Linked DNA regions of Homo sapiens. The protein of the gene in region 3 purifies or fractionates together with the protein of the main gene of each other region. This does not show direct contact. Each region holds a gene or a part of one and is shown on either strand. Other genes may lie near its edges.

Region 1 (4,402 bases), on a different chromosome or scaffold from region 3:
TCTGTGACCTGCTAATGCTTCTCAAAATCACATCATGGCAGATGCAAAGAATTATTTCCCCAAGAAAAACAAGACCTTGACTCAGGGCAATTTTCTGCACAACCAGCATTTTTTTTTTTTTTTGGATTGTTGAATTAATGTTTGGCACGCATTACTGTGAAGTGCATGATTATACCTACATAATATATCACTACAAACTAGGTTTATGAGTTCTCAAATAAATTCTGGGCCGCATTAACAACTAAGTGACTTGTTAAGAGTAATTCAGGATAATTTTCTTAAATTTGTAAGATATTTGTTGAATGACTGTTTGAAAAGGGCTTATTTTCTCACTGACCACTGGAGATCTTTAAACTTTCAGGTAACACGTTTAAGTCTTAAAAGCATTACTGCTGAAGTTAGGGGATTTAAGCCAAGTCACAAATGTCTGGAAAGTAGAGTTAGAACTTTACAAATTCACACTGAGTTCTCAGTTACATTCGTTTTACCATTTACTATTAGGAATAAAATCAAAGGGCTGTGCTTAACTTCAGTCAGACCTTTGACCTTAAGGGCAGAAGGAAGCAGAGAATTATAGTTCACACATAATAAACACATCTCCAAATTATTAAAAAGGCATTTTATTATAAATACATTTTAGTTGTAGCAGTAAAATACATTTTGTTACCATGAATCTTTGAAAACAAAAGAACTTCACTGAGACAATGAGCACACTGTAGGAACTGTAGACCCCAAGTTGAAAACTTGTTCTATGGAACCAAAGTAGCTAACGTAATTCCAAAACTAAGTTAGAAAAGATAAAGACAAAGAAAGAAGAAAATAAAAACCCTAGAGAGTGGCTTTGGGGTTATTTTATGGTACAAAGTCACTTTTACTTTTAAGGATAAACTCTTTAGGTATTAGAGCCTCTTAGATGAGGTATCATTTACTGCAAAGAAAAAAAATTGTTATAATTTTGCCATAAGTTATGCCTATTTAGATGGCTGTATAACTGGTACTTTGAAGAGATGAACCTGACCACCTCAGTTTTGTACAGCTTCCCTCAGGAAGACTTCCCAAAATAAGACTCAGTATGAATTTGCTAAGTAACTGATCTATGAAGTTAGCTGAACAAGTTTAGATAAGAACTATATGTATGAAGCATTAAAAAAAAATCCTGTGTCACTAATAACAGGACCCTTTAATAAAATGCAAAACTCATTATCTTTATAATTTAGAAGAGAAGTATTTTAATCACCATATTTACCTAGGATACAACTACTACATATAGCCAGTACCTTTATGGGGTTTAAAGAATCAGGTCAGATGACTGGCACAGAAATCAGATACAGTACAATGTCATATACATGGATTTATAGGAAGCAGGCATGGTCTGGATTTATGAAAATCCAGGACCCTTCCTCTGTAAAGGGGGAGGCTGAGAAACATTCTCAGCTGCACTGACACTTTGGGACTTCAACCAGGACAAAGAGCCCTCTGACCTACTGAAAGATATAAAGAGGTCTTCGCATACAAGTTATCGTGCAAAGCAAAGTGTAAATAAACCGAAGCTCCCCTCTAAGTTGGGACTGCATAAAGGAACCCAGGCTGAAAATATAAACAATCCTCTCCAAAGGTGAGCAAGCCTTTTCAGTAGGAAGGACTGTGTCTTAAGAAAACTCCAAAGCTGTATATTCTACGATGGTCTTCACGTGTACTTTTACACCTAAGTCATTCTGTATTCTATTACCATAAAAATAGCTTTTTTTTGTCTTTCTAGTAGCTCAGTAAATTCAAAGGCAAACTAAAAACCAGAAGCAGAGCCCAGTACCCCCCAAGATGCAGTCCAGATAAAACAGCAACAACACACAAATTAAACAATACCCAAAGACCTGACAGGTTTATTATATTATAGGCAGTTTCTTTCTCAAAAATAACTTGCTCATACATGTGCACCTATGACTTATGAATAATTCATGCTGTGTAGGTGGTAGATCCCCCTAGGCTGTTTTGCAAACACATATAGATTTTTTTAAAGGTAGCAAAGTAATCAGAGACATTTATTTTCTGCCATATGTAACACTTCAGGCTCTCTCTAACACCTGCTGGCATGGCAGAGAATCTAAAATAACTTTGTTAACCTGAGAAACACATAATTTGAAAAACAAATCCTTTGCCCTCACCACCCTCCCCCACAAAAAAAAAAAATAATAATAACCATAAAAACTAAAACATTTGCCAGGCGCAGTGGCTCATGCCTGTAATCCCAACACTTTGGGAGCCCGAGGCGGGCAGATCATGAGGTCAAGAGATGGAGACCATCCTGGCCAACACGGTGAAACCCCGTCTCTACTAAAAAATACAAAAATTAGCTGGGCGTGGTGGCGCATGCCTGTAGTCCCAACTACTTGGGAGGCTGAGGCAGGAGAATCACTTGAAGCCGGGAGGCGGAGGTTGCAGTGAGCCGAGATCATGCCACTGTACTCCAGCCAGGGCAACAGAGCGAGACTCTGCCCCGAAGAAAAAAAAACAAAACTATTATTTTATTATTTAAGGATTATCTGTGGTTTTCGATGCTCCATGTCACTGCCATCTTAGGACAGGGACTCCTGCACTTAGTGCCTCGATACATGCTAGGTGCACTCTCATGGCATTCTGATGGCTTCTTTCCAGGATTCTCACTTCCATGCATGTGGATCAAGATTGACCCTAAGCACACCAAACAAATGCACAGCTTCCAGACTGATGTCCAGGCAGCAGCGTACACAAAAGCAAACTCACCCTAAAACCAAAGAGCTCCTTCACCCTACTGCGGAAGAGCAGTGCAGACCCCAGCAGGGGTGAGAGTGAGGAGGGGTGGTGGCCAATCCAAAGGGCCTGTCGCTCCATGGAGACCTTTCTCCACAAATGTTCCAGTCATGGCACCAGATTTATAAAAATGTCTCCAGAGATCAGTTTTTTACACTGAGTAAATAAATACATGGTTGAAAAGACGTTCAGACTCTGAAGGTCTCTGAGACTTTCAAACTGCGAGAATCAGACCCAGTGATTTTCAAAGTGTGGTTCCTGGACTGGCAGCATCAGCATCGCCTGGAAACTTGTTGGAAATGCAAATCATCAGGCTCCAGACCAAAATCAGAAATGCTGGGGGTGGGTCCAGCTATCTGAATTTTAACAAGACCTCGAGGCAATTCTGATACTGGCTGAAGTTTGAGAACCATTGCTCCATCCTGTTCACAATTCTCAAATCTTAAAACAGGACAGATCTGTAAATAGTACTATGTGACTTCTACTCTGTGTTGCAACCTATGTAATTTGCCACCCTTTCCCCTTTACTTCTCAAACATTAAAAAAGTATTAATGAAAACACTTCATAAAATCAAAAATTTCTTAAAAGGTAATATCGATTTCCCCTCCTCTACATAGTTCTAAGGCAGGCAATCACATGCTAGTATGCAAAGTAAAATACAGAAGAGACCTCATATATGAGGTAGAAACAGTTAAAAAGACTCCCCACGAACATAATGAAAATTTCATAATATTGTTTAATGAACTCATAGAATTATATAAAACTTACTATGCTTTATGCTTAATATCTGTATCAAAATAAAATCTCTCTGTTGAACAAATTGCAAATAAAGTCTGGTCTAATACTCTGATAACTGAAACTATATGAATGTCTCTGGGTTTTCTTAACACTCCAGTTTTAGACGCTTTAGACGACCACTGCGGAACTGGGTTTGGTATTTAACCACAGTTCACATTTCTAAGTCTAGATTCTTCTATTAGGTACCTCCCTCCAAAAAATTTTTAGAAACTCTGGTGACTGTTTCCTTAAACTTCACTCCAAAGTAGACATTCTCAATTGGTTCAAAAATTTTAAACGTTACATTAAAATTGTTTTTAAATCTCTTGAATCTCATATTCTAGTTTAAAGTAATAACAGGATGTGTTTAGTAAGATTCACTCCTTGCAACAATGGTCTTGACATTACTGATTAAAAAGGTATGAAAGTAGAAAGTGTGAATTTAGCAGCTTTAAAGTCTCAGCTAATAAATGTCCATCCTCAAGCAGATGGGAAATGTGAGGAGCATATCATAATGAGCATTTTCAAGACTAACATGCCAGTTACTCTTTCAAGATGGAGATGGTGTCTTTGTAAGTGATTGGCACCACTACGTGATATTTTGAACAAGAAATCGTAGATAGAACATTACCTATTCTTTCTAATTTCTAGGCGGTTTGAATGTGGATCAGATGGCAAAGAGTGGAGACAAATCAGATCCATTAAGACATTTATACCTTGAGATTCAGGAAGACATATAGCGCGGCAGTAGAAATTAAGGATTTTCATATGTTAAGGGGATGGTGAGCAAGAAATAATGTACGGTAAATCATAAAAGACAAATTACTACCATTGAGG
Region 2 (3,649 bases), on a different chromosome or scaffold from region 3:
CAGCTGTGGGGGTATCTCATGCTGCCTCACAAAAGGTGACTCTGTGCCTAGGAGTCTTCCATGCATGCAGAGCTGAGCAGGGGCTGCTGCCCAGTTGGGGTCAGAGGGGCGGAGGCTGTCGAGCACTAGGTAGACAGCAGGCCAGCAGCGGGCAGCAGGTTGGGCCAGGAGGGAGCAGAGAGTAGGGGCCAGGGCAGGCTGAGCAGGAAAGGAAAAGGCTGCCTGGGGTCCTGAGGGCTCAGGGAGGACTCCAGACAGCTGGCCTTCTTATGCCAGCCCGCTTCTGTGGGAGAGGCCCTCTGCGTAGGTGACTGGGCAGGGAAGAGGCTAAGACACTGAAAGATTGAATTCCTCACCCAAATGGCCCAGAGATGCCCACCGCACACAGTGTCCTGGGTGCAGAAGGCAGGAAGGACTCATGGGAGGCTGTCCTGTGGACTGAAGCAGAAAGTCCTTCCCGTAAGATGCGCTCGTCGCCCTGAGCAGGAAGGCCCAGGCTGCGGAAGCAGTGCCTGAGACCTGAGCAGCAGGAAGGACACCAGTAAAGCTCATCAGGAGGCATCTGGCCGCCTGCACCTACCGGGCCTCAAGGAGAGAGCTTATTTCTGGGAGCCTCCTTGGTAGAAAGAGGTGGACTAGCCAGCAGGTTGGGGAGGAGCATTGCAAATGGAAGCTTCTGAGGGCAGAATGAGTTCTGAACTTGCTGAAGCCAAGGCTGGCCCTCCTGCCCAGGGCGAGCAGTCTGCCTGGGCCTGGGAAGTTGTCCCCTTCTGAGGAGGTGCCCTCCACCCCACCAGAGCTCAGCCCTAGGGGCCAGGAAGGGCTAAAGCGAGAAGAGTGAGATGTGAGATAAAGGGGACCGTGTCTCTTCCTGGGAGGGTGTGGGGTCCAGGCAGCACCTTGTTCTGGCGCACAGGCTGCCAAGCAGATGACAGCCATGGCCTGACTACTAGGTGCAAGCACTGGTGGCAGGAAGAGGGGGTGGACAAAGCAGGACAGAGCTCTTGCCCTGGGGATGCTCATAGCCCTGCAGCAGAGCAGTGGAAAGGAAAGCTGAGCTGAGCGTGGGGCCAACCGCGCCAGAAACAAGCGGAGCCACAAAGCCACCATCAGCCCCCAGGTGGCTTCGTCCTTTTGCCAACTCTGGGTCCAACTCATCGCTGAAGTTGGCAGCCATGACCCATCCAGCCCAGATAATTTATAAATTTACACCAATACTGGGCAACGGTTCTTAACATAGAACTTTATAAAGATGGACAAAAAAGATAAGTTGAGAATGACAAACAAAGGAAGAAGCAGCTTCTATCTGCAGTTGCAGGAGGAGGTGAAGGCTCGGGGAGATAGACCAGGGCGGGAAGAGGCAGGATGGTGGTTGGTTAACATGAAGTCAGCAGCATGAGCCTCAGGCCCGGTGCTGCCTCTTCCTGGTGACTCGGGCAAGTTACTTCATGTCTCTGGGTCTCAATTTCCTCTCCTGTCCAACAGAGATAATTATAGTACCTATGAGTTAGGGTTGTTGAGAGGATTAAATAAGATAATAAGTGAATGCTCTGAATGGCATGACTGGCACATACGTACATGTTCAGCAAGAGATAACTATTATCACCGTGATGATAACTGGTGTCAGAGGAACAAAGTGCCAGGAGAGACCATACCTTGTTCGGGGGAATCAGGAAAGGCTTCACGGAGGAGGTGACTTTGAAAGAACCCTCCTCTGAGGAGAAACAAAAGCTCTCAGAATGCCCAGGAAAGCTGGGAAGAAACAATAATGCCAGGTCTATTTTTTTCCCAAATAGCATATTGTTTGTCCACTGAGGCTTTCTAAGGAATAACTTGAGACTCCTCTTTCTGGGGTCTAGACTTGGAGGTCTTGAGGACTTGAAGTGGGCTGCCCCTAGTGAAGGGATCGAGAGCCGGGCTGTGGCCCTGGCCCTACTCCTTTTGGGGACTGGAAGCTTTTTTCACATGCTGGTCCTAACTGCATGAGGAACTGTGTTCTGCTGAGCCCCATCTAAAGCATACACTTGGTGATGTGGCAGGCAGAGGGGCCAGACAAGGCCACGGCAGGCTCCTGGATCACTCTGGCAAGTAGCTTAGAAATGCCTAGTAATCGTGGGCAAGGTGCAGTGGCTCACGCCTGTAATCCCAGCACTTTGGGAGGCTGAGGTAGGCAGATCACAAGATCAAGAGATCCAGACCATCCTGGCCAACATGGTGAACCCCGTCTCTACTAAAAAATACAAAAAATTAGCTGGACGTGGTGGCGCGTGCCTGTAGTCCCAGCTACCCGGGAGGCTGAGGCAGGGGAATCGCTTGAACCCAGGAGGCGGAGGTTGTAGTGAGCTGGGATCGTGCCACTGCACTCCAGCCTGGCCACAGAGCAAGACTCTGTCTCAAAAAAAAAAAAAAAAGGCCAGTAATCGTGAGGTTCCATCTCAGAGACTTTTGTTTTCTCTTTTTTTCTTTTTATTTTTTTTTTTGAGACAGAGTTTCGCTCTTGTTGCCCAGGCTGGAGTGCAGTGGCACGATCTTGGCTCTCTGCAACCTCCGCCTCCCTGGTTCAAGCGATTCTCCTGCCTCAGCCTCCCAAGTAGGTGGGATTACAAGCACCCACCACCATGCCCGGCTGATTTTTGTATTTTTAGTAGAGATGGGGTTTCACTATGTTGGCCAGGCTAGTCTCGAACTCCTGACCTCAGGTGATCCGCCGACCTCAGCCTCCCAAAGTGCTGGGATTACAGATGTGAGCCACCACACCCAGCCTGCTTTTTCTACAAAGGATTATCTGTTCTATGAATTTAGGAAAGGTAATCCTAAAGCTTATTCACCTAAGAAAAACAAGGCAACCCCAGAGCATGACAGGCTTTCTTGGGCTGGGGGAACTCACATGTGAAAAAACAGGTTCCCTCATAACTACATGAGAGGCCGCAACTGCCTCAGCCCCAGCAAAGGGACACCTCTGCTGGCCAGCATTTCCTACAAAACCTCATCACGACACATCAGGCAGGGCAGAGACCCAAGTATTCACATAGGGCCAGTGATGACTTTTTTTGACACCTGTGGATTCTCCGTGGCAACCTATTCCCCAAAAGTGCTGCCTCGGTCAGCCAATCCCAGTGTCTCTCTGCCTAGGCAACAATCTCTTGTGCTCTGGTCTGCCCACAGCCTCCATGCACTCAGCTCTTTGGGCCTCTTGCTAAGGGGCTGGAAGCAGAGCTGTGTCCTTCAGGCTGTCAAGGACCTGGTGAGGGATCCTCTGGGTGTCCAGGGAAGCAGGTTCAGAAAGCTCAGTTCAGCTGGTGCTGTATTTTGATCTCTGATCCCAGTGCAGCGGGGACCAGCCTACTCAACTCAGTGCAGATAGCAACAAACCAGTCACCTTGCCCAAGACCTCCTGCTGCCTGCCTGCCTGCCTGGTGACCAGGACTCCTAAAGGCTGCAGCAGCAGCAGCAGAGTTAAAACTTTAAAACCGGGAGGACTGGTTCTGTGGCTCAGCTTCCTGGCCTGGAGAGGCTCTAGCCTCCATTTTCTTTCTTTCAGCTTATGGAATTGTGCAAGAAAGCACAGAGGGTGGAGGGAGCGAGGGGACCAGTTATGCCACAGCCTCCTGCACCACCAGAGCACAGTCTCAGATCAGCAAAGAGGAGC
Region 3 (2,835 bases):
TCCAGCCCCCTTCAGCATCTCCGGCTACGACATCCCTGAGGGCACAGTCATCATTCCGAACCTCCAAGGCGCCCACCTGGATGAGACGGTCTGGGAGAGGCCACATGAGTTCTGGCCTGGTATGTGGGGGGCCGGGGGCCTGCCGTGAAAATGTGGTGGAGGCTGGTCCCCGCTGCCGCTGAACGCCTCCCCACCCACCTGTCCACCCGCCCGCAGATCGCTTCCTGGAGCCAGGCAAGAACTCCAGAGCTCTGGCCTTCGGCTGCGGTGCCCGCGTGTGCCTGGGCGAGCCGCTGGCGCGCCTGGAGCTCTTCGTGGTGCTGACCCGACTGCTGCAGGCCTTCACGCTGCTGCCCTCCGGGGACGCCCTGCCCTCCCTGCAGCCCCTGCCCCACTGCAGTGTCATCCTCAAGATGCAGCCTTTCCAAGTGCGGCTGCAGCCCCGGGGGATGGGGGCCCACAGCCCGGGCCAGAGCCAGTGATGGGGCAGGACCGATGCCAGCCGGGTACCTCAGTTTCTCCTTTATTGCTCCCGTACGAACCCCTCCCCTCCCCCCTGTAAACACAGTGCTGCGAGATCGCTGGCAGAGAAGGCTTCCTCCAGCGGCTGGGTGGTGAAGGACCCTGGCTCTTCTCTCGGGGCGACCCCTCAGTGCTCGGCAGTCATACTGGGGTGCGAGAGAGGTGGGCAGCAGCTCAGCCTCCCCCCGCTGGGGAGCGAAAGTTTCTTGGTCTCAGCTTCATTTCCGTGAAGGGCACCGAGAACTCGAAGCCCTTCCAGTGGTACCAGCTCACTCCCTGGGAAAGGGGTTGTCAAGAGAGAGTCAAAGCCGGATGTCCCATCTGCTCTTCCCGTTCCCCTTAAGGAGGTAGCTCCCAGCACTCAACCAACCTCCCCGCAGAGCTCCCTTCCTGACCCTCCGCTGCAGAGGATTGAGGCTTAATTCTGAGCTGGCCCTTTCCAGCCAATAAATCAACTCCAGCTCCCTCTGCGAGGCTGGCATGATTGTTCCATTTCACCCAGCCACTCAGTCCCTTGCCTGTTACACTGTGGGGCTGAAACCTAGGCAGGCCGAGCCCCAGCCACCCCAGCTCTGAGCCGCCTCCCCACCCCTCACCTGATGGTCCACTGTGCTCCCGTAGAGCCCGTTGAGGTTGGCGTAGTGGCAGTTCCTGTACCACCAGGCCCCTCGGTAGGAGACAGCGCAGGAGATGAGCAAGCTGTTGGGGTCCCGATCACGGGCAGAGAAGACACTGCCGCTGTGGTAGCTCATGGAGTCCCCTGGGCAGGGTGGAGGAAGGAGCCATGAGGGCCTCCCCTCCCAGCCTCACCCTCCCAGCCTCACAGCCTCTGCTTACCTGCGGTGCCGTGGTAGCCCTCCAAGTGGAGGCGGTAGTACTCCGCAGCCGAGTCTACGTGGAAGGAGTCGTACTGGGCGAACACAGCCTCGTCCCCAGCCCGCAGGTCCACGCGCATGGAGTAGTCACCTGCCTGTGTCAGGCTGTGCAGGGCCTCATTGCCTGGGGGTGGGATACGTGCCCTCATCAGGGTCCTGGTGTCCACAGGGCCCCCATCCCCATCCGTAGTTCCCCAGTCCCTGTGAGGCACTGACCCAGCCAGAACTCTCCAGAGATGTTCCCAAAACCATGGGCATAGTCCTCCCAGTCCCTCCAGAAGTCTGTCTGTCCATCCATGCGGCGCTGGAACACCTGGGAAGCAAGTGGGGGCACCATCAGCCTCTGGCTCCCGGGGCAACAGACCCTGCCCTGCACAGACCCCTGGGCTTCCCAATGCCACCCACCAGCCAGCCGCCCCCATCAGTCTCCATGTCGCAAAACACGTTCAGGGGCCGCTCGCGGTTGCCGTTGAGGAAGATGGTGCTGGTCCTGGAGGCACCGGCTCCGTTCTGCATCTCCTCCCCGCAGTCCCTGGGGAAGGGGATCCGCAGCCCACCTGGGAGAGGAGAGCAGGGGCCAGTCCTTTTCCAAGCCTTAGGCCCTGGCTGCCCACCCAGCCCCCGGCCCCGGGCCCGTGCGTCCAGGTACCCGTGGTGAAAGAGGTGGACACGGGCGGCAGGAGGCTCTGGCCCCACATGGCCTGGAGCCGTGCATTGTAGGAGGTGGAGGGAAAGAGGCCAAGGAGCTGGTGAGATGTGATCCCTCCTGGGAGCAGGATCTCCTGTGGGACAGACAAGGGGGGGTCAGGGGAGAGGGAGGTGGAGACCCTCCGGGAGGGCCAGAGGCAGCACCTCCTGGAATCACCCAGGGAGGGGAGTTGGGTCAGTGGGGCCGGGGCACCTGGTTCTGTCCACCAGGGGTGTGGAAGCTGAGCAGGTAGCCTGCGGGCCGGACTGGGGGCTCAGTCCAAGTGAGCAGGGCGGTGCGGGGGGTCACTTCCTTGGCCTCCAAGTCCCGAGGGGCCTCTAGCCCTAGGAGGGAAAGCAGGAAGAGGAGATGGGGATGAGGCCCAACCTGGCTCCCTCTACCTCCTCTCCCTGTCCCACACACCCCACAGACCCTACCTGTGGTGAAGGTGATGCTGGCTGGGGAAGTGAGGTTGGGGCCCCGCAGGCCACGCACTGTGGCGGTGTAGTTGGTGTGGAGGACAAGGTCATGCAGGGGGTAGTCCACCGCGCTGCCTGGGGTCTCCGCCTGCAGAGGCGGGGCTGGGAGTGTAGAGAGGGGCATCAAGGCCTGCCCCCTCCATCCTCGGCCAGAGTCCAGCCTCCCCCCTGCAATCCCCACCCTGAACAAGTCCCCTCCAGAGGCCTCAGGCCTGCTCACCCCCAGGGGCTGTGACCTGGACGTCATAGGTGTCCACAGGATTCTGGGGGG

Evidence for each region.
Region 1: the proteins of TNXB (region 3) and HELZ purify together in Homo sapiens (affinity purification with mass spectrometry; one large-scale study listed by BioGRID and IntAct). This does not show direct contact.
Region 2: the proteins of TNXB (region 3) and PAK6 purify together in Homo sapiens (affinity purification with mass spectrometry, with the first as the bait; one large-scale study listed by BioGRID). This does not show direct contact.

Annotation. Positions count from the first base shown.
Region 1 is NC_000017.11:67,069,840-67,074,241, forward strand, and holds the end of HELZ (probable helicase with zinc finger domain), read right to left. Parts: 3' UTR 605-4,402; downstream 1-604. UniProt on the Homo sapiens protein: May act as a helicase that plays a role in RNA metabolism in multiple tissues and organs within the developing embryo.
Region 2 is NC_000015.10:40,241,935-40,245,583, forward strand, and holds part of PAK6 (serine/threonine-protein kinase PAK 6), read left to right. Parts: intron 1-3,649. UniProt on the Homo sapiens protein: Serine/threonine protein kinase that plays a role in the regulation of gene transcription. The kinase activity is induced by various effectors including AR or MAP2K6/MAPKK6.
Region 3 is NC_000006.12:32,040,653-32,043,487, forward strand, and holds the end of TNXB (tenascin-X isoform 3 precursor), read right to left. Parts: coding exon 2,785-2,835; intron 2,667-2,784; coding exon 2,523-2,666; intron 2,430-2,522; coding exon 2,299-2,429; intron 2,180-2,298; coding exon 2,047-2,179; intron 1,955-2,046; coding exon 1,803-1,954; intron 1,711-1,802; coding exon 1,614-1,710; intron 1,522-1,613; coding exon 1,360-1,521; intron 1,283-1,359; coding exon 1,119-1,282; intron 993-1,118; exon of another isoform or gene 799-992; coding exon 697-798; 3' UTR 501-696; downstream 1-500. Other genes in the region: CYP21A2 (steroid 21-hydroxylase), read left to right, coding at 16-119, 217-482. UniProt on the Homo sapiens protein: Appears to mediate interactions between cells and the extracellular matrix. Substrate-adhesion molecule that appears to inhibit cell migration. Accelerates collagen fibril formation. May play a role in supporting the growth of epithelial tumors.